Regions from separate parts of the Homo sapiens genome. Here all the other regions are linked to region 1. Evidence: fine-mapped expression QTL. A gene starts in region 1. Each other region holds a variant in brackets. All regions are shown on one strand. Distances are between the middles of the regions.

Region 1 (4,000 bases):
TGACGTATTCAACTTTCAGTTTGATTCTTGAAAGATTTAAAACTTAAGCACCCTCTATTAGAAACTGATTAGACCTATGGGGGAAAAACCCAAACAGAAGTTCTGAATCACTGGAATTTTTGTTCTATTTCCTGTTAACACATTGATAGTACATCATATTCGTTCCATACATGTTTTTTTAAAGCAGCAGAATCCTTAAACTAACTGTACCCTAATTTAGCCTATAGCTCATGTATCTAACAATTCTTCCCATTGTTTCTAATTAAAATGCTCAGCCAAAGCCTACAACAAAAGAAAAGCAAGTCTTCCTTTATTACAAACTGCCATGGTTTCAAAATTTACAGTTTCAAACCGTCAAAAGTTTAAAATCGTGATTTCATTGTTACAAAGAATGTAAAGATATTTTTTAAAAGGTGTCAATACTCTGCTACTGTATGAACAGTGTAGTAAGCAGAAGTGAAAAAACTGAAAGCAAATATTCTATTCCATGCCCACTAAAATTCCCGGCCAAATCTGGAATTGCATAATGATCATCATAACCTTTAGAGTATGCTAAAGCGGAAACGAAATTCCTTTTCTAAAATGTGAATCAATCTGACCCCAAAATTAGACACTTTACAAACTTACCTAAAACAGACAAAATGGATGCAAAATTATATTGCCGTACAGTTGCTCTGAATACGATCTTAGCGTTCAAGAACTTTCCAATGAATAAGGGTACTCAACAGCCTGCACTGGGGGCCTAAATTTCGTGAACTACGGAGAAACCCCTGTGAGGCTGCAAATTCCCTCCGCTCTCCTGGAAAACCCTCTTATCAGAAACATTTGAAGAATTTATCCACAACAATTAAGCTGACTTGAAGAATGGAAACCTAACATCTCAAATATACTATATATGGAATGAAACATGGCCAAACACATAAATACAAACTCACACGGTCTCTGACACTTTGGTGTACGACTGTGCCTGAACATCTCACAGCATCAGCAACAGAAAGATCCACCTGTCACCTGTTCAGCACCGCCAAGAGACCCTTGCAGCCTCCCTGACTCAACCACAATCGTAGGGTTTGAGGTTGATGGGACCGAAAACCAGAAACATCCAGTGAAATTTAAGGGGCCACATATTCATAGTAGGGCTTGCCCCCCACTTCAAAGACGGCTGCAGAAAACCAAGATCCGCAAAGGAACGATGTTCTCCCTCCCGCCCGACCCCCACATAACTGCCCCGTGTCTGTCCCCAAAACCCCCGCCCCTGAGTCATCTTTAACTAGACCTCGGCTCCCCAAAAGGAGATTTTTCCTCCCCCGCCCCCACCTCACACATGCCTGGGGGCGGGTCAGGGGCGCCGACGCAGGGAGGGGCCCTCCCGAGCCCCTTGCGCCCTCCCCCACCCGGGGCTCTCCTAGGCGCTCGATTCCAATGAAGCTCCCCCTCCCCCCCCGCACGGACGCCCCGGAGCCCAGGCCCGGCCCGATGCTCCCCACCCCCACCGGACTGGGGGACTCGGGGGGCCTCCCTCTCCGCCACGCCACTGGGGGAAGGAAAGAGGCGGAGGGAGGAAGAGTGCAAGTTAGAAGCGAACGCCCCGCACGGGCCTCGCGAGGCGGCAGAGCCCCTTCCAGACGGAGGGGGGTGCGGGGCGATGAGGGGAGAGCCAGGTTGGGGATCCCGCCGAGGCCCGGCAGCGCTGTCCGCTTACCCTTTGCCGCCGCCGCTTCCCCCTCCTCCTCCTCGGCCGCCGCCGCCGCCGCCTCTCCCACTAGGGCAGCCGTCTCCACCGTCGCCTCCGCCACCACGGCCGCCGCCAGCGCCGCCGCCGCCTCCGGTTCCACCCGGCAGGGGGGACACCTCAGCCCTCCCTCCCTCCCCGCTCAGCCCCCTCCGCTCGCCCGCCGCCGCCAACTCCCTCCGGCCGCCGCCGCCGCCACCGCTCCTGGCTGAGGGGGAGGGGAGGGGGTCGGGCTGGGTCGCCCCGCCGGCGGCTGCAGCAGATCAAAAACGACGGCTGGGCGGCGTCGCCGCTCCCCAATCCTCAGCTCCGGCTCGCTCGGCCTCCCCACCTCCCTCTGCCCCCACCCCCCTCGCGCTCGCCTGCCCTCCCCCCACCCCCCCAGCTCTCGCTCGCTCTCGCCGCGGCTCCGCCAGCCCAGTCCAAATCAAAATACTGTCACACAATATGGCGGCGCGGCGGCCGGCAAACACCGCGAGATCTGCAGCCGCGGCTGAGGCGGCGGCTGTGACGAGGCCTCCCCTAGCCGAACGGCGGGGGAGCAGCAGGCGGCGGCGGCGGCGGCGGCTGCGGCTGCGGCCCGGGGATGCTCTTCCTCCGACCTGTACCCCTCCCCCGACACTCGCAGTCTCTACGCCTGTCTTGCTAGGGCTGGAGGGAGGACGCGGGCCGCCGCTGGGGCCGTGCGAGGGGGGTGCCGGTGCGGGCAGCCCGGGGAGGGCTGGGACCCCCTTTCTCCGCCTGGGCCCCCCATCCTTGGGGGTAGGTTGCGGGTTCCACCTCCCGCCACGGGGGCCGCTAGCAGTTTGGGCTGAGGGAAGAAAGGAACTGAGCTCGCGTCCCAGCTGCACCTAGCGGAGGGGCTGGCCGGGTCCGGAAGTGGGTGGCGGGACTTGCCGGGCGGCCGGCGGCGCCGCGCGGGTGGGGTCCGGGGGCCCGGCCGGACCCCGGGGCGCTGCGGCGGCCGAGAGGAGCAGGTGGGCCCGCGGCGGAGGCTGGCGCCGGGTCGCTGCGGTCCGGGACACACCCCCTTGGAGCCGGATCGCACCGCCGGCTAACGGGAGGGACCCGTGCAGAATCGTCCCTAGGGTGTGCGGGAGACGTCTTGGGAGCCTCACAACTGGCAACTTCGAGACTTGGAAAAAGTGTCGGCTTCTGACTTTTCTTGAGCAGTTGAGGGGGAAAAAAGAAATCTAAATGCTGCGAGGGTTTCGTTGTTTCGATTTTATTTTAATTGCACGTTCCTAGAAGTCCTAGAAGCAGAGCCAAAGACTAGCTTTGCGGGAAGAGGGGGGGCCTTCAAGTTTCTACCTCCTTAAATAAATATTTGTTTAGTGTCCCCCTAGGGAAAAAAAAAGCGTGTTTAATACTCAGACGTTTCTCACAATGTGAAATATTTATTTAAAAATTCTAGCGCTTCCATGGTGTCCAAAACACTAGGGCATTTTTCTGCCCCTGTCCAAAATGTCCATATCCCTGGCAGTTTCTTCCTTGAAACAATTCTTACTCCAGAGAAAAATCCTAAAGGACCATTTTTATACTTTTATTTCCAGTGTGAGCACTGTAGCTACAGTGAGAATTTTTTTTAAACCATCTTTTAAATAGTAGAGCCTTCCTCACAGTTAAAAGTTCTTTCTCCCCACTTCCTTTTTCCTCATTCATCCTTTGAAAATACCTGAAGTCTGGGCTATAGCACCAATTCAAATACTTTGCCACTTCAAAAGCTGAAAGTACTTATGATTTACAATATCGGAATTTAATTATTCTCCATTGGTGATACCATTAAGAGAAGCAAAAGTAAAATTAGGATTTACAAAATTGGGAAGATTCTAGTTTTACTGGCGAGAAGAAATCATTAACTTTAACGCTTTACAGCAGTTCTCTGAGGAATTATTTCCATACTCAATGATAAAATAATTGATTAAATAATTTTAGATAAACTGAATCCATTAAGTAAATTTCACTTGTCTTTGAAACCATTATAAAGTACAGAGGCAACAATTGCTTTTGAAATGGTAGGATGATGTATTTTATGCAAATTTTTAAAAAAATTTATGGAATGTACATGTACGTATTTTAATAGAAATATAATGCTTTATAGATTATAGGTTTGAGCAGGTCAAGTCTAAAAACCAGTGGGGGGCAAAGAAGGTACATATAACAAATACATCCTTGCACCAGCAGTGCACTTAGAGCTATGTAGTCATGAGGAAGCATCAGACAAACCCAAGTAGAGGAAAATAAAATATAAAATAACTAGCCTGTATT
Region 2 (4,151 bases), 97 kb before region 1:
TCTATCTATGAAAGTCCTGGAGGGCATCTCGACACCTTCTTCCACTCGAAGGCTGTTTCATCTACATGGAAAATCTGTTTCATGTAGCCACATTATCTTAGTTTGATCTTCTGGATAACTTGATGCAGCTTCTATATTGGCACTTACTGCTTCACCTGCCACTTTTATGTTATGAAGATGGCTTCTTTCTGTAAATCTCATGAACCAACTTCTGTTATTGTCAAACTTTTCTTCTGCAGCTTCCTCACTTGTCTCATAGAATTGAAGAGTGTTAGAGCCTTCCTCTGGATTAAGCCTTGGCCTACGGGAATGTTGTGGCTGGTTTGACTTTCTATCCAGGTGATTAAAACTCTTCATATCAGCAATAGGCTGCTTCACTTTCTTATCACTTGTGTTCACTGAAGTAGCACTATTAATTTCCTTTGAGAACTTTTCCTTTGTATTCACAACATGGCTGTTCGGTGTAAGAGGCCTAGTTGTCAGGCTATCTTGGCTTTCAACATGCCTTCCTCACTAAGCTTAACCATTTCTGGTTTTTGATTTAATATGAGCGATGTGTGACTTTTTCTTTCACTTAAGGTTAGAAGCCACTGTAGGGTTATCAATTGGCCTAATTTCAATATTGTTGTGTCTCAGGGAATAGGAGGCCCAAGAAAAGGGAGAAAGACAGGGGAATGACTGGTTGGTGAACAGTCAGAACACACACACTGGCCGGGCGTGGTGGCTCGCACCTGTAATCCCAGCACTTTGGGAGGCCGAGGCGGGCGGATCACGAGGTCAGGAGATGGAGACCATCCTGGCTAACACGGTGAAACCCTGTCTCTACTAAAAATCCAAAAACTTAGCCGGGCGTGGTGGTGCACGCTTGTAATCCCAGCTACTTGGGAGGCCAAGGCAGGAGAGTCACTTGAACCCAGGAGGTGGAGGCTGCAGTGCTCCGAGATTGCACCACTGCACTCCAGCCTGGCAACAGAGTGAGACTCCATCTCAAAAACAAACAAAATCTCACACACACACACCAAAAAAACCACATATTATCAAGTATCGGTTAAGTCTCACACAGACATGGTTCAAACGTCACTTAAGCCTTAGATGGATATGCTTCATGGTGCCCCAAAACAATTACAACATCAAAGATCACAGATCACAAATCATAATGAATGTAACAGTAATGAGAGTTTGAAATATTGTGAGACTCATCAAAACGTAATACAAAAGACACAGAGGTACATGCTGTTGAAAAAAATGGTACCAATACATTTGCTCAATGCAGGGTTACCACAAACCTTTAATCTGTAAAAAACACATCTGTGAGGTGCAATAAAGTGACACACAATAAAACAATATATGTCTGTATCTAAGTGGAGAGGTCAAAGTAGCAATGAATGCCAAGTAGGCAGAAAATATAGCAAGTGCTATGAGAAAAGGTGCGGTTTGGAAAGGTCTCATGATGGTGACCCTTGATCGGATCACTGGAAAGTTAAATTTAAGTACAGAGACAAAGCAAATGGCATGGACGAAAGTACACTGGTGGGGATGTGCAAAGCCTATTAAGGGAAGTGATTAGACCAATTTAGTTGTAAGAGGACTCTGTTGGAAAGTAATGATCCTGAAGAGACAGGTAAGGAACAAACAAGTCTTACAAGTAAGCTCAATGAACAATGGGGAAATAATAAAGATTTCTGAACAGGATTGTGTGGGCATAGTGTTATTTCTGTAATATACTGTAATCTAGCTGCAGTGTGCAAGGAAAGAGTAAGAACTTGGAATCAATTAGGTCACAGTGTGAAAGGGACGAAACCTATCAACAATCCATGGATGAGTTCAAAGGTGAAAATTAAAAAAAAAA[TA/A]TATATATATACATATATATATCTGGAGCCAGGTGCAGTGGCATGCATCTGTAGTCCCAGCTACTTGGAAGGCCAAGGTGGGAGGATAACTTGAACTCAGGAAGAGGCCAGCCCAGGTAACACAGCAAGACCTTGTCTCTAAAGAACAAAACCAAAAACCACTGGAAAGGATTTCCATGGTGAAGATACCGCAGTCTTTGTTCACGGCTATGAGGATCAATAAACACTTCTAGAATAAGATCAGTAAGCTGTATTGGTTCTACATCACGTCAGGGGAAGGCTGCCCTCAGAAGAGGAAGAACGGAGTAAAGAAGGGAATCTGTAAAGAGGGAGGCACTAGAGAGAAGTGTGCTTTGGGTCCATTTTAGGCTTAAAACAAATATGCAGACATGCAAACACTAGAGTAAGTTCTTCAAGTGTTTTTCCTGGAGAAATAATTTGTTATACTCCATCATAAAATGTACACTCTTTAGACAGCTGAACATATAATACAAATATAAACATACCTGATCTTCAGGTCAGCCTTCCAAAGTTTTATAATCTTTGCAAAGCTACCAACCTTTGACATTAAGAGGAAAAATTCAATCTCAGTGAATGAAACATCAAATTCTGATCCATTGAGATGTCCCTAGACCAATTCAGATAAATAGCTAACTTACCTGTTAATACTGTTGAGAGAACAATACTTCACAACCCATTTATGTAAAAACAAGGCCCACTTTTAGGACAATGCAGTTCCTAGTCAGAGAGAAGGGGTTGGCTCAGATAATAGTTTCACATTAATCCTTACAACACCCCTGTGAGGTGAGTTTAGCATTAATCTAATCACCTTCGTTCGACAAGGAGAGGCAATATAAACAAGGAACTGTCCCAGGATTACAGAGTAAATCTAATGAAGACATCTGAAATCACAGCATTTTGGGAGGCTGTGAGCCGATCACTTGAGGTTGGGAGTTCAATGCCAGCCTGGCCAACGTGGCGAAACCGTCTCTACTAAAAATACAAAAAAAATTAGCCAGGCGTGATGGCGTGTGCCTGTAAACTCAGCTACTGGGGAGGCTGAGGCAGGAGAATCACTTGAACCTGGGAGGCGGAGGTTGCAGTGAGCCGAGATTGCTCCACTGGACTACAGCCTGGGTGATAGAGTGAGACTCTGTGTCACACACACACACACCACAAAAAATAAATAAATAAATAAATAAATAATAAAGTTGAGAGGTCATAACAAATACAAAAACTCACTACAAAATTGTTTTCTTAGGCCTTTTCTCTCAGTTGTCTAATTGTATTTTCAGATGGAAGCAATACAAATTAAAATGCAGCTGAGCCATTTCAAGTAAAATGGATATAAAATTGTAGCACCAAAAAAGCTGAAGCCAAAAATATATTCATTTGCCATACAGGAATAGAAGTACTTTGTGATGTTATATGGGAAGCTATGCCGATATCCAGCATATAGATATTAAATCTGGAGTAGTCTCTAGTGTCACTACATTATTTTCTACGGCAATATGGCCTACTTCCATTACTCATGGGCTGAATATTTTATTTTATTTTATTTTATTTTTTTGAGACAGAGTCGTGCTCTGTTGCCCAGGCTGGAGTGCAGTGGTGCGATCTTGGCTCACTGCAACCTATACCTCCTGAATTCAAGTGATTCTCATGGCTCAGCCTCCAGAGGATCTGGGACTACAGGCATGTGCTGCCACGCCCGGCTAATTTTTGTATTTTTAGTAGATGGGGTTTCCCCATGTTGGCCAGGCTGGTCTCAAACTCCTGGCCTCAAGTGATCCACCCACCTTGGCCTCCCAAAGTGCTGGGATTACAGGTGTGAGCCACTGTGCCCAGTCTGAATATTTTATCTTATACTGTTTACCTCTTAAATCTATCCCTGCTCACTAGAATTGCCTGTCAACATTACATTGGGATAGAGAAAACTGGTGACACGTCAGCTAGTTTTGCTATTTATAGCTGCTTTGATTAAGTAGGTTTAAAGCTAACAATTAGTTTTGGACTACCCATGGAGCTGATTTTCTGCATAATTTCCCCAATATAAAGTTAATTAATATTAGATCAAAGATGACACAGGTTAAACAAGATTTTAAAAGAAAAATAAAATTTCAACTTTTTTCCCTCAAACGCCTGCAATATAACACACATCTTTGTCTAACGTATTAGTTGTCACAGGAGACATTTGGCTGACAATTTGTTAATATAAAAATTTTCCTGAGAAGTCTAGTTTACATGAACTGCCAATTCCTCTACCCCCAAACCCCTTTAAACATACAGATGAAGGATAAT
Region 3 (4,000 bases), 71 kb after region 1:
TGTAGAATGCTTTTCTTTCTTTCTCTCTTTCTCTCTCTCTCTCTCTTTCTTTCTTTCTTTCCTTCCTTCCTTCTTTTCTTCCTTCCTTCCTTCCTTCCTTTCTTTCTTTTTCTTTCCCTCTCTGTCTCTCTCTTTTTTTGACATAGTCTCGCTCTGTCGCTCAAGCGGGAGTACAGTGGCACAATCTCAGCTCACTGCAACCTCTGCTTCCCAGGTTCGAGCAATTCTCCTGCCTCAGCCTCCCAAGTAGTTGGGATTACAGGCGCCTGCCACCACGCCCGGCTAATTTTTGTATTTTTAGTAGAGACGGGGTTTCGCCATGTTGGTTAGGTTGGTTTTGAACTCCTGACCTCAGGTGACCCACTCACCTCGGCCTCCCAAAGTGCTGGGATTACAGGCATGTGCCACCATGCCTGACCTTAGAATGTTTATTTCTTTCTGTCTTTTATTTTATTTTACTTTAAGTTCTAGGATGCATGTGCAGAACATGCAGGTTTGTTACACAGGTATACATGTGCCATAGTGGTTTGCTGCACCTATCAACCCACCATCTAGCTTTTAAGTCCTGCATGCATTAGGTATTTGTCCTAATGTTCTCCCACCCGCTGCCCCTACCCCTCAACAGGCCCTCGTGTGTGATGTTCTCCTCCCTGTATCCCAGCGGATTAAGATGCTCATTTCTTAAAATTCAGGGGAAAGATGGACACTACCGGTTCCGTGGCCCAGGGTTTTGGAAGAGGCGGCCTCCGGATGACTGGATGCACTTCTCCCTGGGACTCACCCTGTGTCGTTACAGCTCGAGCTTACTGAAAATAACAGACAGACACCTCCACTTGTCCCCTCCAACAGAGTGGCTGCACTGGCAGCTCTCTAATGAGTTCTAACCCCATAGGGGCAGTTATGAAACTGATGCAAAAAGGATACAATCAAGATAGAAGTCAATAAGGAGCACAGAAGGCATGAGTAAGACTTGCATCAGAGAGGCCAAAACCCAAAATGCGCTGGGGGTTGTGGGAGCGGCTGAAGAGCCTGGAGAAGCCGCTTATAGTCATTTTAAGTCAGATTAAAGGAGTGTGTTTGGCTGACGAGAGGACCCCATGCTTGCATGTATGGAGCCTTATCTCAGCTTCCATACCTACAAAGGGGACATGATTGGTGTCTACCCCAGAGAGTGGTTTTAAGAATTAAACAAAATGACGTGTGTGAAACTCTTGGAACAGTGTCTGGTTCATGGCAGGAGGTGTCCGTGACGTGCCTGAGGCCATTTGTGTGCTTACCTGTGTGTTTCTGTAAAGCAGACCCAGTGCAGGGCACCAGGGATGTGGTGGGAGCCACACGGGATGATGACGTTCCTACCCTCAGGGAGCTCACACTTACGAGGGGGCAGTAGAGGTTGGGAGTGGATAGCCTTGGAGGAGAGGGGTGGGGGTTGTCGGGAAGAGGGAGGGCTTACCTGAGCAGGAGCTGTTGAAACTGCAAGGGAGGCGGCTGGGTGGTGAGGGCAGAGCAGCAGCAAAAGGTTGGGG[A/G]TAAGGAACTGAGAGTGGGCCCTGACTGCTGAACAGGGACTGCTGTGGCAAGAGGCTTGGAGGAAGCAGAACTCAGGCACTTTCTGTTTGGTTTTAGTCTTCCTTGACAAACAGAATCAATTTCAGATGAAAACGGCTTCAATATTGCAGAGAGGAAATCAAAAGAGCAACTTAGCCGAGTGTGGTGGTGCATCTGTAGTCCCAGCCACTCAGGAGGCTGAGCTGGGAGGAGGGCTTGAGCTCAGGAGTCCGAGGCTGCAGTGAGCCGTGATTGTGCCACTGTGCTCCAGCCCGGCAAGAGAGCAAGACCCAGGCTCATACAAAAAAGAGCGCCCAGCTCTTCTGAATCTGACCTGGCCCCTCCGCCTGAGCCCTAGGTTCCCGCCTTCCTTGGCCCTCTCATGTTGACTGTCACGACTTAACAGCCCAGTCCAGGAACACCTGCGGTGAACTTGGGATTTCTTTGACATTTCAACTGTTATTTTAAAAGGCTATGGTCGAATAGAAAACAACATAAGACCTTCTGATTAGCGGTTTTAGAAAAAGCTTTGTTTCGATGGTGCAAATTAGGTAGGTGGAGGAAATTATCCATGAAGACTGGAGTTTACATTTTCTGGAAATTGTTTCATGCAGTCTTCTAGGGAAAACAGAGTCCTGTAAAAAGTAGCCTATTGAACACAATTTGAAATTTTAGGCCTGAACAGACCATTTGCTTTTAGGAGCAAATGCTAGGGAGCCATTTCCCTTGAAGGTAGAAGTGGGCCTTTGGTAAAAAGTCCAATAACCGGCCGGGCGTGGTGGCTCATGCCTGTAATCCCAGCACTTTGGGAGGCCAAGGCGGGTGGATCATGAGGTCAAGAGATCGAGACCATCCTGGCCAACATGGTGAAACCCTGTCTCCACTAAAAATATAAAAATTAGCTGGGCGTGGTGGTGGGCGCCTGTAGTCTCAGCTACTTAAGAGGCTGAGGCAGGAGAATTGCTTGAACCTCGGAGCGGAGCTTGTAGTGAGCAGAGATCGTGCCACTGCACTCCAGCCTGGGTGACAGCAAGACTCTGTCAAAAAAAAAAAGTCCAGTAACGACTGTATAATTTTTAAAGTGTAAACGCAGAGGAGGGAGAAATGTATAGACAGAAGTATTTGTTTCAGCTTTGCTTGAAGAGGCAGAATCTGGAAACCATCCATCTGTAGGGGAATGGTACAAAAGTGATGGTATGGATTACTGTACGATTCTCAGTAAGATGATGCTAGGGGGTTGTCCATGAGGTATTATTAAGTGAGCAAAGCAAGCCATGGAATAAAGAGTGCATTGTTTCCATATCTGTATAAACAAACAGCAAAACACCCTAATTTTGCCCACATGCATCAATATCTAGTTGTATAAGCGTGGACAGAGGGACTATCTCGGTGAAAAAGAATGAAGGAATTTCAGGAAGAGAAATAATTTATATAACCATGAGTTGTTTTATTTAGTATAAATAAATACATTAAAGAAACAATTTAAATCATATATCAAAAGGAAGAAGAAACAAGGAAAAATGTCATGGTAATTTTACATCCTATTCTATAATATAAAACTACATTTTAAAGTTATCTGATATGAGAAAAAAGTATCAAACCTCTCCCCTCCTGAGTCTTTGGGAGAAATAAACAGCACACCATAGTGATTTGATGGCTGCAAGTCCTCTGGTCACCACTACATGTGCCCAGGTTGCTCTTAGCCCACCTCTAGAAGCTACGGCTAAGGTTCAGATCTCCTCTACTTTCCAAAACTTGGGTCTTTAAGCCCTACTGAATCTGAATGTCATGCTCTGTCACTTCACAAAACCTATGGCCCTGACCCTCTTCCAAAAATGTTGCTTCTCACCTGTCTGGCAAACTCTTAGCATCGTGGTTATGAGTGTGGATGCTGTCACTGAGTGCCTGGGTTTAAACTCCAGCTCAGCCCCAAGGTAGCTGCTTGACTTGGGCAAGTTACTTGATCTCTCTGTGCATCATGAAATGGGGATAGCACTGATATCTAAACTTGAGGTCTTGAGAGAATTAAATGAGTTAATACATCTAAAACTGTGTACAGATGGCAGCAGCATCTGCCATATCTTGTTGTTTTTTTTTTTTTGAGATGAAGTCTCCTGCAGTCCCCAGGCTGGAATGCAGTGGCGCTATCTTTGCTCACTACAACCTCCACCTCCCTGGTTCAAGCGATTCTCCTGCCTCAGCCTCCTGAGTAGCTATGATTACAGGCATGCACCCCCACGCCTGGCTAGTTTTTGTATTTTTAGTAGAGATGGGGTTTCACCATGTTGGCCAGGCTGGTCTCGAATTCCTGGCCTCAAGTGTTCCACCAGCACCCCTGACTCCTTACCTCAAGTGACCCACGTGCCTCGGCCTCCCAAAGTGCTTGGGATTACAGGCGTGAGCCACTGCGCCCAGCCTGTATCTTCCTGTATGCTTGCTCTTATTATTACTCATA
Region 4 (4,151 bases), 150 kb after region 1:
CTCTATTCATTGATTTCAGTTCTGCTCCCTGTCTCCTGTCCCCGGCTCAAGTGCAGCTTGTTCTGGACTTGGCTTTTCCAGGCCCGATTCTGCCTCACGACCCTTCAGCTTTATGGTCCACTGTGAACTGACCCATTCTCATCATGTTACTTAGTTCACATGCTGTTATGGACTGAATGTTTCCCTCCAAAATTCATATATTGAAGCCCTAACCCCCGATATGATGGCCTTTGGAAGTGGAGTCTTTAGGTTTAGATGAGGTCAGGAGGGGAAGGCCCTAAGAAGGGATTGATTAGAGCACTTATAAGAAGAGTTAGAGAGATCAAAGCATGTACTCTTGTTCTTTCTTCCTTTCTCTTTCTCTAGACCATATTGGGACATGTCAGGAAGGTGGCCATCCATCTGTAAGCCAGGAGGAGTGCCCTCATGAAGAACTGAATCTGCTGGCACTTTTATCTCAGACTTATGGCCTCTAAATGATGCAAAAACAAGTATCTGTTGTTTAAATCACCCAGCGTCTGGCATTTCATTATAGCAGCCGGGCTGACTAAGAGACATGGCTGTGGAGAGATTCAGAGTGGCTTGGGTCCTCTGTCCGAGGCAGGCTCCAGGCCAGGCCTTGTGAGGGTCAGGCCTGGGATGCTGGTTCTGCGATTTCTCCTGGTCCAGGGTTGGACATAAATGTGTGTTTGTGTCCAGGAGTGGTGCTCTAACCCCAAGGCCCCCATCTGCAATGGTGGCATTTGAAACTTGACTGCTGGCCACTGAGACTTCTTGAGGCTTCTCCAAACAGAGCAAAGAGGCTGTCCTTGGTTCTTCTAGGATGAAGGACTCACCAGGTTGGGAACAGGAAACCTAGAGAAATTCTCAACATCCTTACAGGCAACTCTTGCAATTGTATATGGCACTGCTTGCTGGTTGAGAGAGGCTTGTAGTGTTTGTTCTCAGGACACTCACTGCGGCACTGTCCCCACATATGAAAACCAGGAGAGTGGGGATTTAAGCTTGTTTGTTTGCTTTTAAGCTGCAGAAGCATGCATTTTTCATAATGAGTAGAGGCCACCAACATATGGCTCATGGATCTCCTTTGCTGAACCTATTCCAACTCAGAGCTGTAAGAGCCCTCATCAAGTGTAAAGAAACCCGTCTCCTCATGTAACTGAAATTTTAAGTACCACTCAGGTCTGGTTTCAACTCTGGCAATAAAATAAAAATCTTTCTCACCTTTTCACAGATTGGGTCTCCCTGGTATATTTCAAATTAGCGCAGTTAGCTGAGCCCTCTAATGTTTCTGGATATGAAATGGATAGGGGTAATTCAGCCTCAGCAGCTCAACAGCATCCCACTTGCTGTCACTGGATCACAGCTATGGAAGTGTTTCGCTTTCCCCGGCTGCACGAGAAAGCTTGATGACGACCGGATGTGGAAATATAAGTCCCACCTATTTGAGAGGTAAAACTGATGAAGACATAACATACAAGTCTGTATGTCTTCAGAAGTCATTAATAGGAAAGAACTTGTTTACTCAAATCTTCTAATCTGCCCATTTTAAAGAAAGTTGTGGGCAGCACAGTTGACATGTCTTCCAGGTTCCAAAACCAACAGAACTGAGAGTTTCAGGTTACCAGAAAGAAGTCAAACATCTAGCATTTAATGAAACTGTACGTGGACTCAGAAAATGGTAAAGGGTAAAAGGACAAAAACAAGACCTCACGGTAATGACGTCACCTCCTAGGGTGACTCTGCTGGGCTTTCCGAGGGACACACAAAAAATAGTAAAGTAATAGTGCAGTCCAGTTGGGGAGATAAGATGTAACTCAGGGGAAAACCAAACGCCAGTAAAGTGTTTGAGTGACATTTTAATAGAGAGCAATGGAAGAGCTATTTCATGGGGATCCTGGGCTAATTGCCAAGGCCATCCCATCAGCAGTAATTGCTCTGCATTGGAAGGGGATAGCCGTTACTTCAGGCTGCGAGGGTCAGAGATGTAGGGCTTGACCAAGGGGTTGAGTCGGAGGTTGACGCAGGCAGGGGAGGGGTCTTTCCCGGCAGGTTAAATGGCGTGGGCAGAGGGCACAGAGGGGAAATTAATGTGTTCAGGAGAAGGAGAAATTATGTGGTAATGTTCAGAAAAGCTCAGGCACTTGGACTT[C/T]ATATTTTACAAATACTCTGAGAGAAACAGGAGAAAAAAATCAATTCTAAAAGTCTGAATTGTGTAATAACTGCTGACAGTTTTGGCTTTTTTACTGCAGATGTGTTTAAATGCATGTTTTATTATAAAATTTAAAATAAAATATTGTGTATATATGCTGAAATAAAACTATTAAAAACAACAGAATTTCAAAGGCCAATTCTTGTACCATTTCTCTAATAGGTCTTTTTGTATCAGGTCTTTAAAAAAAATCATAGAAGGAAATTTTGCCTTGTCCAAAGTGGTTTGAAATATCTCACATGGGAAGGTTTCTCAATGAGAAAACAATTATGTAATTACACTCATGTTTATCTCATTTCTGTATACTTTGACTTACTAGAATTAAAGCTTCTTGCTGAAGGAACTTCCCAGAAACTTCCCCAATCCTAAAACAGAACTTTGGAATGGTACCTTCAGTTGGGAAAGCTGATGGCTTTAGACGTAGGGCTTTGTGTTGGCTTGTGAAGTGTCAGTGGGAGGGGAGCTTGACTGCACTTTAGTCACCCATGTATAACTGGCTTCTAGTAGACAGACCTCCTACCGGCTCACAATCTATGGAACCTGCTTGTCACCCATACCCTAAATCACTGTTCTTCCCCCAGGTGACTTAGTAAGTGGTTCACACACAGCTTGCCAGCACATGAAGGGAGGAGTACAAATGGCCCCTCTGGGCAGCTGCGACTGCCCTCTCGGTGTCCCCCGGCACTTCTGACCATGCTGGAGTGGCACAGAGATGACTCAGTGATGCTCAGCTATACTCAGAAAGCATTTAGGCAATTTTCCCGAAAGCTGAGCCTGGTCAGCTTCAGAAATCTGCCCTGGCCCTGCCCTTTTAGGAGGGCACAGATCACTCATTTTTACAAAGCCCATTGAGATGTAAGCCCACACCCAGAAGTTCATATTTGACTGATGAATATACCCCATTGTGGCTTTGTATATGTCTTTGCTGCCAGTGGGTATTCTGTAAAAGGCCTGTTTGTATAAGCTGGTGGAAAGGGTTTAAGTATGACAGAGTTGCTGCGTTCTGGGGAAGCGAGGATGGAAAAGCAAGGTTTTCTAGGGCTCAACCAGAAGAGCCTGGAGACTTGACAATCAGGTGTTTGTGGAGAAGATAGGAAGAGGTGAGCAGGCGTAGCAAGAGACAGACAATGGGGGAGGGAGGGCTGATAGCTGGAAATGCGAGTTCATGGAGTCCTCTCATTGGAGATGGGGGTGAAAAGGGAGGGGAGGAGGACAGGAGTCAGGCGGAGAGACCCACTCAGGTGCTTCTATGGAGCTGGGGTCATTCACGTGCACGTGCCTTTCTGGAGTCTCCCCTTCCTCTCCCATAGGACCCCAGTAGTGCCCTGTGCTTCAGTGTGTGAACCGTGGCTTTTATTTTCTCTATTCTGATGCTTTGACATCCGGAGCCTTGTGTCCCCTGGAGGGACTGCCCCTTTCAGGGTTAGCCAATTCGTAGGGATAGTAAACAACCCGCCCAAGGGCACAATTTTCAAATACAAACCAACCAACCTAGAGTCCACACCCCAACCACCTTCTTTGCTGGGCTCTCATACTCTGAGTCATTACCCATCTGCCCTAATCCCCCCTGGCCCAGGTGCTAGACAACTAGGGACAGACCCTCTTCCCAGAGCCCACTGAAATAATTCAAGCCATCCGATGCTAAGTAGCTTACCCCGTCTTTCCTGTTCCTTCCCACAGAAACCACAGCCGAGGCTCTTGCCTGTAGTTTCTCTGCTCCCTCTGCCTCCTGATGGTCCCTGGTTCATCCCCATGTGGCCCTCATGGTGCTGTGCCCTCCTCCCCTTGGGAACTGTGAGTAACAAACTATCTTTTTAATGGCGATTGTCTCTCGATCTGTTGGTCTCACCATACCTAAATAGTAACAAAGTCTGTTAAAACGTTCAGTTCCAAAAAAATCTCATGAGCCAGTGCTCTGCCCCAGTCATGTCCCCATAGT
Region 5 (4,151 bases), 130 kb after region 1:
AAGCTATTTACTTAAGATAAGGATTAGGCTGCCTTCAGCCAGATCTGTTACTGAAGCTTATGCAACAACCCCGGCCTTCCAGGAAGGTTTGTATCTATTACTTATAACTATCTTTAAAATTTTTCCCACCAGCCTGACTGAACTCCCACCCATATGGGACCAAAAATGAGCCCACATAGCCAATTCAAGACCAAGCAAAAAGAATAAATCTGGGGGCATCACATTACCTGACTTCAAACTATACTACAAGGCAATAGCCACCAAAACAGCATGGTAATGTCATAAAAATAGGTACATAGACCAATGGAACAGAACAGAGAACCCAGAAATAAAGCCAAATACTTACAGCCAACTGATCTTTGACAAAGCAAGCAAAAACATAAAGTGGGGAAAGGGCACCCTATTCAACAAATGGTGCTGGGATAATTGGCAAGTGACATGTAGGAGAATGAAACTGGATTCTCATCTCTCACCTTATCTGAAAATCAACTAAAGAGGGATCAAAGACTTAAATCTAAGACCTGAAACCATTAAAATTCTAGAAGATAACATTAGAAAAACCCTTGTAGATACTGGCTTTGGCAAAGGCGTTGTGACCAAGAACCAAAAAGCAAAAGCAACCAAAACAAAGATAAATACTTGGGACTTAATTAAACTAAAAAGCATCTACATAGCAAAATAAATAATCGGAGGAGTAAACAGACAACCCACAAAGTGTGAGAAAATCTTCATGAACTATGCATCTGACAAAGGACTAATATCCCGAATCTATAAGGAACTCAAACAAATCAGCAAGAAGAAAAGAAACAATCTCATCAAAAAGTGGGCTAAGGACATGAATAGACAGTGCTCAAAAGAAGATATACAGATGGCCAACAAACACATGAAAAAATGCTCAGTTATCAGGGAAATGTAAATCGAAACCACAATGAGATACCACATTACTCTTGCAAGAATGGCCATAATTTACAAATAAAAAAATAATAGATGTTGGCATGGATGGGGTGAAAAGGGAACACTTTTACACTGTTGGAGGGAATGTAAACTAGTACAACCACTATGGAAAACAGTGTGGAGATTCCTTACAGGACTAAAAGTAGATCTACTATTTGATCCAACAATCTCTACCCAGAGGAAAACAAGTCATGATATGAAAAAGACACTTGCACACACACATTTATAGCAGCACAATTTTCAATTGCAAAAATATGGAACCAGCCCAAATGCCTGTCAATCAACCAGTGGATAAGGAAAATGTGCTATATATACACCATAAAATACTATTCAGCCATGAAAAGGAATGAAATAATGGCATTTGCCACAACCTAGATGGAATTGGAGACCATATGCTAAGTGAAGTAATCAGGAATAGAAAACCAAACGTCGTATGTTCTCACTTATGAGTGGGAGCTAAGCTATGAGAACACAAAGGCATAAGAATTGTACAATGGACTTTGGGATCTTGGCAGTAAGGACGGGGAGGGGTGAAGGATAAAATACTACACACTGGGTACAGTGTACACTGCTTGGGTGATGGGTACACCAAAGTCTCAGAAGTCACCACCAAAGAACTTATCCATGTAACCAAACACCACCTATTCCCCAAAAACCTATTGAAATAAAAAAAACAAGTGGAAAGGGGGGGAAACATTGATTGGTGAAGAACTTTCAAGGTTTTGTTTTTTTTTTTTTGTCTAAAAAAATCTTTATTCTGCCCTTATTTGTTATTATCATTATTTTTATTATTTTTGAGACAGGATCTGGCTCTGTCACCCAGTCTGAAGTGCAGTAGCACAATCTTGGCTCACTGCAACCTCTGCCTCCTGGGCACAAATGATCCTTCCACCT[C/G]AGCCTCCTGAGTAGCTGGGACTACGGTATGCACCACCACACCCCACTAGCTTTTGTATTTTTTTGTAGAGATGGGGTTTTGCCATGTTGTCCAGGCTGGTCTTGAACTCCTGGCTCAAGCTATCTGCTTGTCTTGGCCTCTCAAAGTGCTGGCATTACAGGCATGAGCCACCGCACCTGGCCATGCCCTCATTTTGAAAGGTATTTTCTCTAAATTTAGAATTCTAGAATTATAGCTTTTTTTTTTCTTTGTGTACTTTGAAGATGTTCTACTCTCTTGTAACTTTGTTACTAACAAGGAGTCTGTGGTCATTCTAATTCTTGTTTCTCTACATAGTGTGTATTTTTTTTCTCCAGCTACTTGTAAGGTACTCTCTTTACCACTGGTTTTGATCAATTTGATTATAACGGTGTTTGTGTAGTTTTCTTTATGTTTCTTGTGATCCTTTGAGCTTCTTGTATCTGTGGTTTACGCTTTTCACTAAATTTGGAGAAATTTTAACCTTATTTTTTCAATTTTTTTTTCTATATCTATCCCTCCTTTTCTGGGACCCTTATCACATGTATATAGATCAAGTATATTGACCCACAGGCCACTATCATTCTGTTTCATTTAAAAAAATATTTTCTCTCTGTTCTTCATTTTGCATAGTTTCTATTGCTATGGTCAAGTTTAATAAACCTTTTTTCTGTATTGTATGCTTTTTATCCCAACAAGTATATTTTTTCTGTTCAAATAGAATATTTTTCATCTCTAGAATTTCCATTCGTGTCTTTTTTATATCTTTTGTTTCTTACACTGTCATGTTCACATTTTTCTTACACCATGATCATAATGATAATATTTGTATTAGTCATTTTAAAATCCTTGACTGCTAATGCCATTTTCTGCCATTTCTGAGTTTCTTTCTATGAATTAATTGTTTTTCCTGGTTATGGGTTATATTTTCCTTCTTTACATGCCTGGTAATTTTTGACCAAATACCAGACATTACAACTTTTACATTGTTAAAGGTTGGATTTTTTTCACATTCTTTTAAAGAGTGTTAGGCTTTTTATGTCAGGCAGCTAAGTTACTTGCAGATTGGCTTAATCTCTTTGTGCTTTATTTTATTTTTTATTTTTTTTTGAGATGGAGTCTCACTCTGTCACCCAGGCTGGAGCGCAGTGGTGCAATCTCGGCTCACTGCAACTTCTGCCTCCTGGATTCAAGTGATTCTCCTGCCTCAGCCTCCTGAGTAGCTGGGATTATGGGCGTACCACCACGCCCGGCTAATTTTTGTATTTTCAGTAGAGACGGGGTTTCACCATGTTGGTCAGGCTCATCTCAAACTCATGACCTCAGGTGATCCACCTGCCTCGGCCTCCCAAAGTGTTGGGATTACAGACATGAGCCACCCCGCCCGGCCCCTTTGTGTTTTATTTTTAAACTCTTTTGGGATGGGGCTAACCTAGCCTTTACTCTGAGACAGCCCTATTTCTAAGGCCTGGCCCTCCTGGAATATCTACTAAATGCCTTGCGTATTCAGTGAGGGCTTTCTACTTTGCCTCATGAGAAACGGAACTATTGCCAAGTCTGTGTGAACTCTGGGAATTGTCAGCGTACGGTTCTCTGGTGATTGTTCTTTTTGCAGAAGTTGTTTTTGCCTGGCCTTATGAGTTATCACCTCACACATGCGCAGACTGGCATTCAGCTAAAGACTGCACAGGACTCCCGAGTAGGTTTCTGGAACTCTTTCTCTGTGTGACTCCCTCCTTGCAGCTATTCCCCCACAGAGCTGCCTTGGACTCCCTAACCTTGCATCTTTGTCTCCTCAACTCAGCAAGATTCCAGGGCTCTGTTTCCATTCCAGCATCTTACACTAAAGTCCAGAAAGTTCCTCCAGGCAGAAAGCCTTGTCAGTGGTGGGGCTCACTTCACTTATTTTCCATTTTTCAGGAAGAACAGTCCTGCACTGCTTGTAGCACAATTTCTGAAAATTCTCATTTCCTATATTTTGTCCAGTTTTCTAGTTGTTTATGACCAAAGGATAGTTCTAGATTCTCCCAGTGGAGCTTTTATATTTTTATTTTTAAAGTATATGTTAAACTAAACATTGTCAGGGTTTTGAATTCACTTTGTGATTAAGTTTTTTTGTTATGATATGAATTTGATTTCTATAAACAGGGCCTTCACTGCATTGAACAAAAATAAGGCTATTGACATCTTATGGTTAAAAACCTACAAGCATTTAGATGTAATTCAGTGGTTACCAGTATCTTCAGATACAATATATTATACTCCTTGATAGGAATAGCAGCTT
Region 6 (4,000 bases), 83 kb after region 1:
ATTATGCTGAAAATTGCTTCTGGCTGACTGGTCTCCTGGTTATTAATTCAAATGTCCCTCCTATTGATGCTGTTAATGGCTTCAAACAGCTCTTGTCTCCTTTTATGCAAGGGGAAAATTGGACCCCTTCCAAACAAAATAACAGTAGCCTAGGGAAGCCAACATATGCAGCATTGCCAGATAACTCCAACTATTAATTTTCTTCAGCCAAGTTCCTTTCCATTTTTTAACAGATATGTCTTATGCTGCCTAACTCTACAAGGTAGACATTCCTATTACTCAAAAAATTTTTATATAAAAAAGAACTTCCCCACTTGATTAGCCTCCTATCTCTTTTTCTGGGCCATTTCACCAACAGAAAGCACTGAGTGAGTAGAAACCTCAGATGTGGTGTTGTATTGGGTTCTCATTTGGCAATGGGGAATAAGGAATGGTAAAAGGGCATTAGAATCTTTGTGAACAGGAAAGAAATCGAGGCAGAAATAATTTGAAAAAGCTCCTCCCATGATTCTGACATGTTCCCAAGTTGAAAACTACTTATTTAGAGATATAGAAGCTTCAGCCAACAATACCTCCTATTGTTTGATCCTGTGACTTACGCTTGAATACCTCAAATGAGGGTGACCTCATTGGTCATTATATTCCTGGACCATTTTATTTTATTTTTATATATTTAGGGGGCACAAGTGCAGATTTCTTGCATGCGTATATTGTGTAGTGGTGAAGCCTGGTATTTTAGTGCGCCCATCTCCCAAATAGTGAGCACTGTCCCCAATAGGTAATTTTTCAACCCTCACCTCCCTCTCACCCTCCCACCCTTTGTAGTCTCCAATGTCCTGGACCACTTTAATCTTTAGAAAGTATTTCTGCATTTTGAGCTCTGTGTCATGGTCATTTTTCACTTTTTGGGTGCCTTAAATCCATTCTCCCTTCCCAAGAGGACCATAGTTTTCTTTTGGGGAATAAACTGCTTTCCACTAGAGCCAGCCTGGGTTTGACAAATAAATCTAGGTGTCCTCCCCCTGTGGAAGTCAAAGGGACCTCTTGAAGGTCCTTCTGCCAGACTCTTCTTCTCATTTCCCTGGGACAGTCAAGGGACTGATGTGTGACCTATGCATGTCTAATGAAATTCACGCTCCTAGGACATGAATCTTGAGCAGGGTGACACAAGCACCAAGGCAATGGCTGGAATTCTTTTAATTGTAGAGGCAGTGCTAAGCAAGATGGTCAAGAAGTTCCTGATATCAAGGCTTTCTGGAGCCCTCTGTTTCTTGTGGACCCCCAGTCTGGTTCCTCGGCCTAGCTAGGAAATGGTGAACTCCTTCATGTTCTTCCAACCAATGTATCTTTTTGCTCAAGCTAGTCAGATGATTTTTTGGTGCTCAAGACCAAACAAGGCTGCTACCTCAAACTTCACCCTCCTGATCCTAGTTCCTCTTTCTGCTGTTACACCAAACACATAGGATCCCCTTTTAATAGGATGTTTCAAATTTTTAAAGACATCTATCACGTTCCTCCCAAGATTGCTCTTCCTCAACAGAATATCCCCATTTCCTTTAACACTTCTTCACTATTGTGGCTTATGGAGCCTTCAAAATTCTGTTTTCCTTGGCACAGGGCCCAGTTTCTCAAGGTCCCTCTTACAGTGTGTCATCCGGGATTGAAACCGTAAACCCACTTGGTGTTTCAGCCAGTTCAGATTATGGTCAGATGTTTCCTTGCCTTGAATGTTGTATTTATATGAATGCAAACAGAACTTGCCTTAGCTTTTATTTTTATGCTCCACTCTGAACTCAGATTGAGTGGCACAGAGCGCACACTTAAAAAGCTGGAGTTATTATTAATTATAAACCTCCTGGCTTTCTAATAAAAAGTGCTGAAGTCAGATGTCCTCATCTTGTATTTTTGCAATTG[T/A]TTTTGAAAATCTAAAAGTGGCACTTAGTGTTTATTCTTGTTACATGGTATGCCTTTGTTTTTGGTCTATTCTTAGGCCAATGCCATTTTTTAAAAAGAGTGTGTTTTTTTTTTTTTTTTTCACACTCTCTAATCTTAGTCGTCTCATCTTTTTATCTTCTACTTATCTGGCACACATGCCTTTGATGTTTCCTTCAAATCACTGAAAAAATCTCACACAGTTCTATGACACAACCCAGGGAACTCCCTCCAGGTTGAAATCAATTCATTAATCATCTCAGCACAGTGTATTGTCTGCTAAGAACCCAACCTAACTGCACTCTATTTTCCCATCTTGTCCACAAGAAAATGAATAAGCAGCTCCCTGGGATGTCTGGCTGACAGCGTCATTTGCAAGGTACATGCGGCAGGAGGTGGGCAACTGTGAAATGGGGAGGTTGATTTTCCATTTTCTTTTTTGTGGGCACCAGTTTCTCCCAAACAAAACCTTACGCAAAACCCTAATACATACAAGATGGCAGTGAGTAGCTCGGGGTGAAGCTGGGGTGTGGGTGGGCAGTGGTTGACTTCCTGCTGGCCCCAGTGCCCTTCAGCCAACCCCTCTTCAGCCTCTTACTTTCCTCCTGGCACCTCTCAAGAAAGGGGTGACCTCTAGGGGGTTATGGTTTCAACATTCTGATTTAAAACATCCGAGTAGCAAGAGTTCCCTTTATTACTTCTTCTGTCTTCAAGTCTGCACATGTCAGCAGGGGAAGCCAAGATTTTATCAGATAGTCTGCTTTTAGTAGGTTTCTCTTTTATCTTAAAAATGTTATTGAAAACCTCCCATGTGAAAACTTCATACTAGGAGCGGTTTGTGAGTCATAGGTGTCTTGTTCAATATAGTTCTTAAAGACTTGGTTGAAAATACAAATGACAAAAATGTGACTGATTATTATTATTAAAAGGTTAAAAAAATCATAAACTGAAGTGAAGTACTGTTGGAACTTCATAGGAATAAATGTAAAAATGCCACATTTACATTTCATAAGCGAATTACACAAGGATAGGATTGAGAGGTCCAACCTAACAGCATTTGGGGAGGGTTGGAGGGCTTCATGGTGGTAAAAAAATTATATTATTGTTTATGGAGAGCCCGTTATGGATCAAGCATTGGATATATTAGGTTGGTGCAGAAGTAATTGCAGTTCTTGCCATTAAAAGTAGTTGCAAAAACAACAATCACTTTTGCACCAATTGAATAGATTAAGGTGAGTTTCTGGCCTTGAGAAATTTACAATCTAATAAACAAGTATATTGTGAAGTGTAAAGGAAAGCAGGACTAATCTATTGGAGAAAACCTTCCTAGGGGGTTTTCATTTGAAGAATGTCAGATCCATGAGTCATTTGGTAAACAATTACTTAGTGCTTTGTTAGGGGGCAGTTACATGTTGGTGATTCAGGGATAAAAAACCACTTCTGGCCTTTAAGAGGCTCATAATATAATGGAGGAGACAAACCAATGGCTCAACCATGACACTTACGTGTGACAAATCAGATGAAGAGATAAGAACTGGTTGCTGGGCCCTGGGTGGCTCTGGGCCCAGGCAGGAAGGAGGTTTAGTTTGCTGCTTTCTGCGGTGAGCTTTCAGGATCAACTTTCTTGGCCTACAGTAGAGGCGTCTCAGTGGAGAAGCCAAGGAGGCACACTGAGCGGAGGGAGGTTTGTCTCGGACCCTGGATGACAGATTCTTGGTCACTGTGCTAAGTGCCCAAGTTGTGACTTGTGCTGGAAAGCCCTTGTTTCTCACCCCCCGCCAGGTAGTTACCATGGCATTCATGACTTCCTTGGTTATTTCCTGTCATCATTTGTCCCCACCCATGAGTGCCTGGCTACCTCCATCTTCCGGCTGGTGGGTCTGCATGCAGGATATATCACTCCTGGTGTGAGGGGTGGACACTAGGCAGGTGAAACAGGGCTATTATGTACTATGCCCTGGCATGGGAGTGGGTACTCCTGGCCAGGATGTCAGCTGTGCCTGCCTTTTGGGCTTCGACTTCCACACAGGTCGCTGTGAGGGAAGTACAGCAGCATCCCTCAGGATGG
Region 7 (4,000 bases), 33 kb before region 1:
AAAATCACTGGGCTTCATCCTGGACCTACTGAATCAAAGTCCCTAAGTATAAAGCCCAAGTATGTTCACTGATTCATCTTTGAATCCACTGTGATGAGCCCTCTCAAGACAACTGCTTATCTGAATGTTTCTTCAAGTAAAGTTTACTCCAGTTCCTACAAGACCGCTAGTTGATAACACAGTAAATGAAAGGCAGGGAAGGGACTAATCAAAAACCAAGATGACTATGGTCAAAGGATCACATATAAGAGGTGCTTATAGTAAAGTATTGATTTAAGGAAGGAAAATAGAGATGGAAAGGGGTGTGGAATTTCATGAGTTTAAAAAACTGGGTGAAAGGCAATGAAATAAAAAGATTATTAAAATGAAGTCAATCACCAACAAGCCTGTAACAGGAATGGTTAGAAACTTGTATGTAACTTGATTCAATGGGAAAGAAATAACTAGGGGAAGAAAAAATTACCTCTATTAAGTATACACAAACAGATTCTGCAGCTACTATATATTTAAGAGTGTAGGAAAATGTAGATGTACAATAAACACATATGGATCACCATAGGTCAGCTAAAAATGAAGCTTATTATAAAATAAAAGCTGTTTTTGGGCAGGTAAATTTCTGAAAAATCTTTTACTATCAAGAAGGTGCCATACAAAGTAAATGGTGGAGCAAAGCTAAATTCCCAGAGATCTAACTTTTAAAAATAAAAGGAATAACTAGTAATGTATCTCACATAAACTACTCAATTTACATAATTTAAACTTGACAAAGTATTGGCCTTTACTATTAAAATCTTAAGAAAGAAAAGGAACCAATGAATAAATAAAATGTTACTCTGAGACAGGCATAAACTTTCCTGAAGAGAAGAAAAGAGTAGAACTAAAAGAACCAGTATTCTACCTTAGCCATGCACGCTTCTAAAATTTTCTGGTGAAAGAACATGTTAATAGTTTAAAACAGAGATAACCTAATGTTGCTAAATATTTCAACCTCAGTTCCATAAGTGCACACTGTCTTATCTAACTAGATGAGACAATTATGATATAAGGTATATAAAACAGTATTTGATACACAGTGATAGCTGGCTAAGTATAAATTCTAGGATTCCATGGGTTCGTTTATGAAGTTTAATATGCTATTTACTTGCAGTAACTTCTTGGGCAAATCATTTAATTTTTCTGTGCCTCAGTTTCCTCATCTATAAAATGGTGATGATAGAGTAGCTACTTCATAGGAGTGTTAGGAGAATTAAATGAGTAATCCAAGTAAGATAATAAAAAGAGCACATAGTAAGTACACATGTAAATAAAATATCAATACTATCATTTCATTCTTCGTAAAATGGAGAAAACAACTCAAAGAGCTTCAAGGATTAGTGACAACATAATTAAAGCCAATTGCATTATATCTGTCCTGCCTACAGCAAAAAGTACAAACTGGTAGTAGTAGTAATTATTTATTTTAAATATCATGAACTTCCACGAAGTGCAAAGGAACAAAACCTTACAGGGCTGCATATTACCCTGGTTGCAGAATATTGTAGGAGTGGATTGAGCCTTTAAGGCCTTCTTTTTCAATGCATACGGGACAAAAAACTTGCAGTTGGGGAAATCTGACAAAGCTACATGACAAACTCAACAGTACTAGGTTGTGCAAAGTGCTAGAAAAGTGGCATAAACTGTGTTATAATAGGTGTTTAAAGGGATCTCTCTGGGCTGAGGAGGAAGTGGGAAAGTATTGAAGCATAGGAACTTAAAGTATAAAAGAAGTAAGGCAGATTCTGGGGATCGTGTCACCTGTCTTGCAGGAGGAAGAAAGGAGGGACAAAGAGGAAAGAAGGGGATTATGAAGA[A/T]GGTACTCAGGATGGGGGTAGTTACAGGAGAAGCTGAGAAGATGAATGAAGGTTTCAAGGTATAGTGGTCTTTATCTGAGAAGACCTTGAGATACGCTAATGCTAATAAGGTTTTAATATATGTCAAACTATATATATACATCATTTTATCTTTGCACCGTTCTTACATAATTATGAGTTTTGCTGGAACAAATTTAATTATGTTAACAAAGTAAGCTGGGCATGGTGGCACATGCCTGTAGTCCCAGCTACTCAGGAGGCTAAAGAAGGAGGATCCATTGAGCCCAGGAGTTCAAGGATGTAGTGAGCTATGATTGTGCCACTGCACTCCAGCCTGGGTGACTGAGCTCTTAAAAAAAAAAAAAAAAAAAAAAAAGACATAAAATATGGTTCATGCCGAATATCAAACAGTAGTAGGAAGAAATACATAACGTTCACTTCTCAACCGCCCTAGGATTCTTCCTTAGCTTGTGTACAAGAATGTAAGAGAAGATTTTTCCATTTCAACATACGCTAAAAGCAAATTCCAGTTTCCAAAGTAGCCATTAGCGGTAATAATTTTTTCTGTAAATCATAAAATCCTGAATTGGACAGAATTCTAGGAAGTTATCTCATAAAAGTATAATTTAAGAGATCTGAAAAATGCCTTGTTGCCCAGTCGTCTCCTTGTTAGACTTCCTCTTCTCCCAGTCAATCCTATTTACCTCTTAAAAACAAGCCCTGGTCACAAAGAAAATTCTTCACGTGAGAAATATTAATTCCAGCCGGGCGCAGTGGCTTACGTCTGTAATCCTAGCACTTTGGGAGGCTGAGGTGGGTGGGTCACCTGAGGTCACGGGTTTGAGACCAGCCTAGCCAACATGGTGAAACCCTGTCTCTACTAAAAATACAAAAATTAGCCAGGCGTGGTGGCAGGCGCCTGTAATCCCAGCTACTCGGGAGGCTGAGGCAAAAGAATCGCTTGAACCCAGGAGGCAGAGGTTGCAGTGAGCTGAGATTGCGCCACTGCACTCTTGCCTCGGCGACAGAGTGAGACTCCATCTCTGAATGAATGAATGAATGAATGCATGCATGTATGTTAGTTCCCAAGCAGAGAGACTATTTTTCACTGGTGTATCCTAACTACTTAGTGTATGTCAAGTGGATGCTCAGTAAATATTTGTTGCCATAACTCTCTAAATAAACATCAGAATACATACAGCTTTTAAAGACTACTCTAAAAAGTGGTTATCTATCTCCCCAAACTCAAGCGTTTCCCTTAACCTCAGATATGTCAGTGCTGCTATATCTGTTTTGAAAATGTAAATATGTTCCATCACAATTGATATGAGAGAACAATTTGAACATTAAGTCAATTTTGCTGTAATTTCATTTGTAAGAAACACTAGGTGAACACAGAAAGCTGTATTGAGCTAAAACAAGCAGCATATGAATATACAAAAAGTAAACAGGAACACACCTGAAACACTTACCAGCTATCTCAGCTTAACAGATCTGCATGTCATTAATCACACCCAGTCACATTACTGATTTCAAAAAACTCTTTCTTGACTACCTTTTTTTTTTTTTTTTTTGAGACGGAGTGTCACTCTGTTGCCCAGGCTGGAGTGCAGTGGAGTGATCTCGGCTCATTGCAACCTCCGCCTCCTGGGTTCAAGCAATTCTCCTGCCTCAGCCTCCCAAGTAGCTAGGATTACAGGCGCGTGCCACCGTGCCTGGCTAAGTTTTTGTATTTTTAGTAGAGACGGGGTTTCACTGTGTTAGCCAGGATCATCTCAATCTCCTGGCCTTGTGATCAACCCGCCTCAGTCTCCCAAAGCACTGGGGTTACAGGCGTGAGACATGGCGCCCAGCCTTGACTACTTTACAATAACTCACAAGCTGCAATTCTTCCTGTGCTCCCTTCCATAAGCAAACTTTAGGTCTCATTGAGGAAAAAGTACAATATTCATTGTAGTATTTACATATTTCTTAATTTATTTAACATGAATAAAATTATCTTTAAGATTTTTTTTTTAAATTTTTTGAGATGGAGTTTTGCTCTTGTTGCCCAGGCTGGAGTTCAACGGTGCGATCTCGGCTCACTGCAACCTCCGCCTCCCGGATTGAAGCAATTCTCCTGCCTTAGCCTCCTGACTAAGCTGGGATTA

Alleles and levels. Alleles are on the strand shown, and positions count from the first base shown. SD is a standard deviation of normalised expression in the study named. Not every link is listed here.
With allele TA in place of A in region 2, the expression in monocytes after R848 of the gene that starts at base 2,006 in region 1 is lower (moderate effect, 0.57 SD a copy in Quach 2016).

Evidence for each region.
Region 2: its variant is fine-mapped to the expression of TAB2 in monocytes after R848 (Quach 2016, PIP 0.95). The same link has a PIP of 0.9 or more in monocytes and monocytes after Pam3CSK4.
Region 3: its variant is fine-mapped to the expression of TAB2 in monocytes (TOPMed, PIP above 0.99).
Region 4: its variant is fine-mapped to the expression of TAB2 in liver (GTEx, PIP above 0.99).
Region 5: its variant is fine-mapped to the expression of TAB2 in whole blood (TOPMed, PIP 0.93).
Region 6: its variant is fine-mapped to the expression of TAB2 in whole blood (INTERVAL, PIP above 0.99).
Region 7: its variant is fine-mapped to the expression of TAB2 in whole blood (TOPMed, PIP 0.97).

Annotation. Positions count from the first base shown.
Region 1 is chr6:149,315,718-149,319,717 of GRCh38, reverse strand. TAB2 (TGF-beta activated kinase 1 (MAP3K7) binding protein 2) reads right to left here and starts at 2,006. Exons shown (of 7, transcript NM_001292034.3): 1 at 1,703-2,006. RefSeq lists enhancers at 674-783, 944-1,123 and silencers at 1,214-2,113, 2,204-2,743, 2,794-2,863.
Region 2 is chr6:149,412,255-149,416,405 of GRCh38, reverse strand. No RefSeq gene overlaps it. Among named protein-coding and RNA genes, the nearest start is that of SUMO4, 14 kb to the right of the region's middle. The variant TA/A (reference allele first, on the strand shown) is at 1,850.
Region 3 is chr6:149,244,529-149,248,528 of GRCh38, reverse strand. All of the region lies in intron 1 of TAB2-AS1 (TAB2 antisense RNA 1), which reads left to right. It also overlaps a transcript of TAB2 not described here. Among named protein-coding and RNA genes, the nearest start is that of TAB2-AS1, 11 kb to the left of the region's middle. RefSeq lists an enhancer at 1,443-1,492. The variant A/G (reference allele first, on the strand shown) is at 1,527.
Region 4 is chr6:149,168,780-149,172,930 of GRCh38, reverse strand. No RefSeq gene overlaps it. Among named protein-coding and RNA genes, the nearest start is that of TAB2-AS1, 87 kb to the left of the region's middle. The variant C/T (reference allele first, on the strand shown) is at 2,153.
Region 5 is chr6:149,181,798-149,185,948 of GRCh38, reverse strand. No RefSeq gene overlaps it. Among named protein-coding and RNA genes, the nearest start is that of TAB2-AS1, 74 kb to the left of the region's middle. The variant C/G (reference allele first, on the strand shown) is at 1,849.
Region 6 is chr6:149,232,900-149,236,899 of GRCh38, reverse strand. It overlaps a transcript of TAB2 not described here. Among named protein-coding and RNA genes, the nearest start is that of TAB2-AS1, 23 kb to the left of the region's middle. The variant T/A (reference allele first, on the strand shown) is at 1,915.
Region 7 is chr6:149,348,844-149,352,843 of GRCh38, reverse strand. The region is part of intron 1 of TAB2 (TGF-beta activated kinase 1 (MAP3K7) binding protein 2); the gene reads right to left. Among named protein-coding and RNA genes, the nearest start is that of TAB2, 33 kb to the right of the region's middle. The variant A/T (reference allele first, on the strand shown) is at 1,851.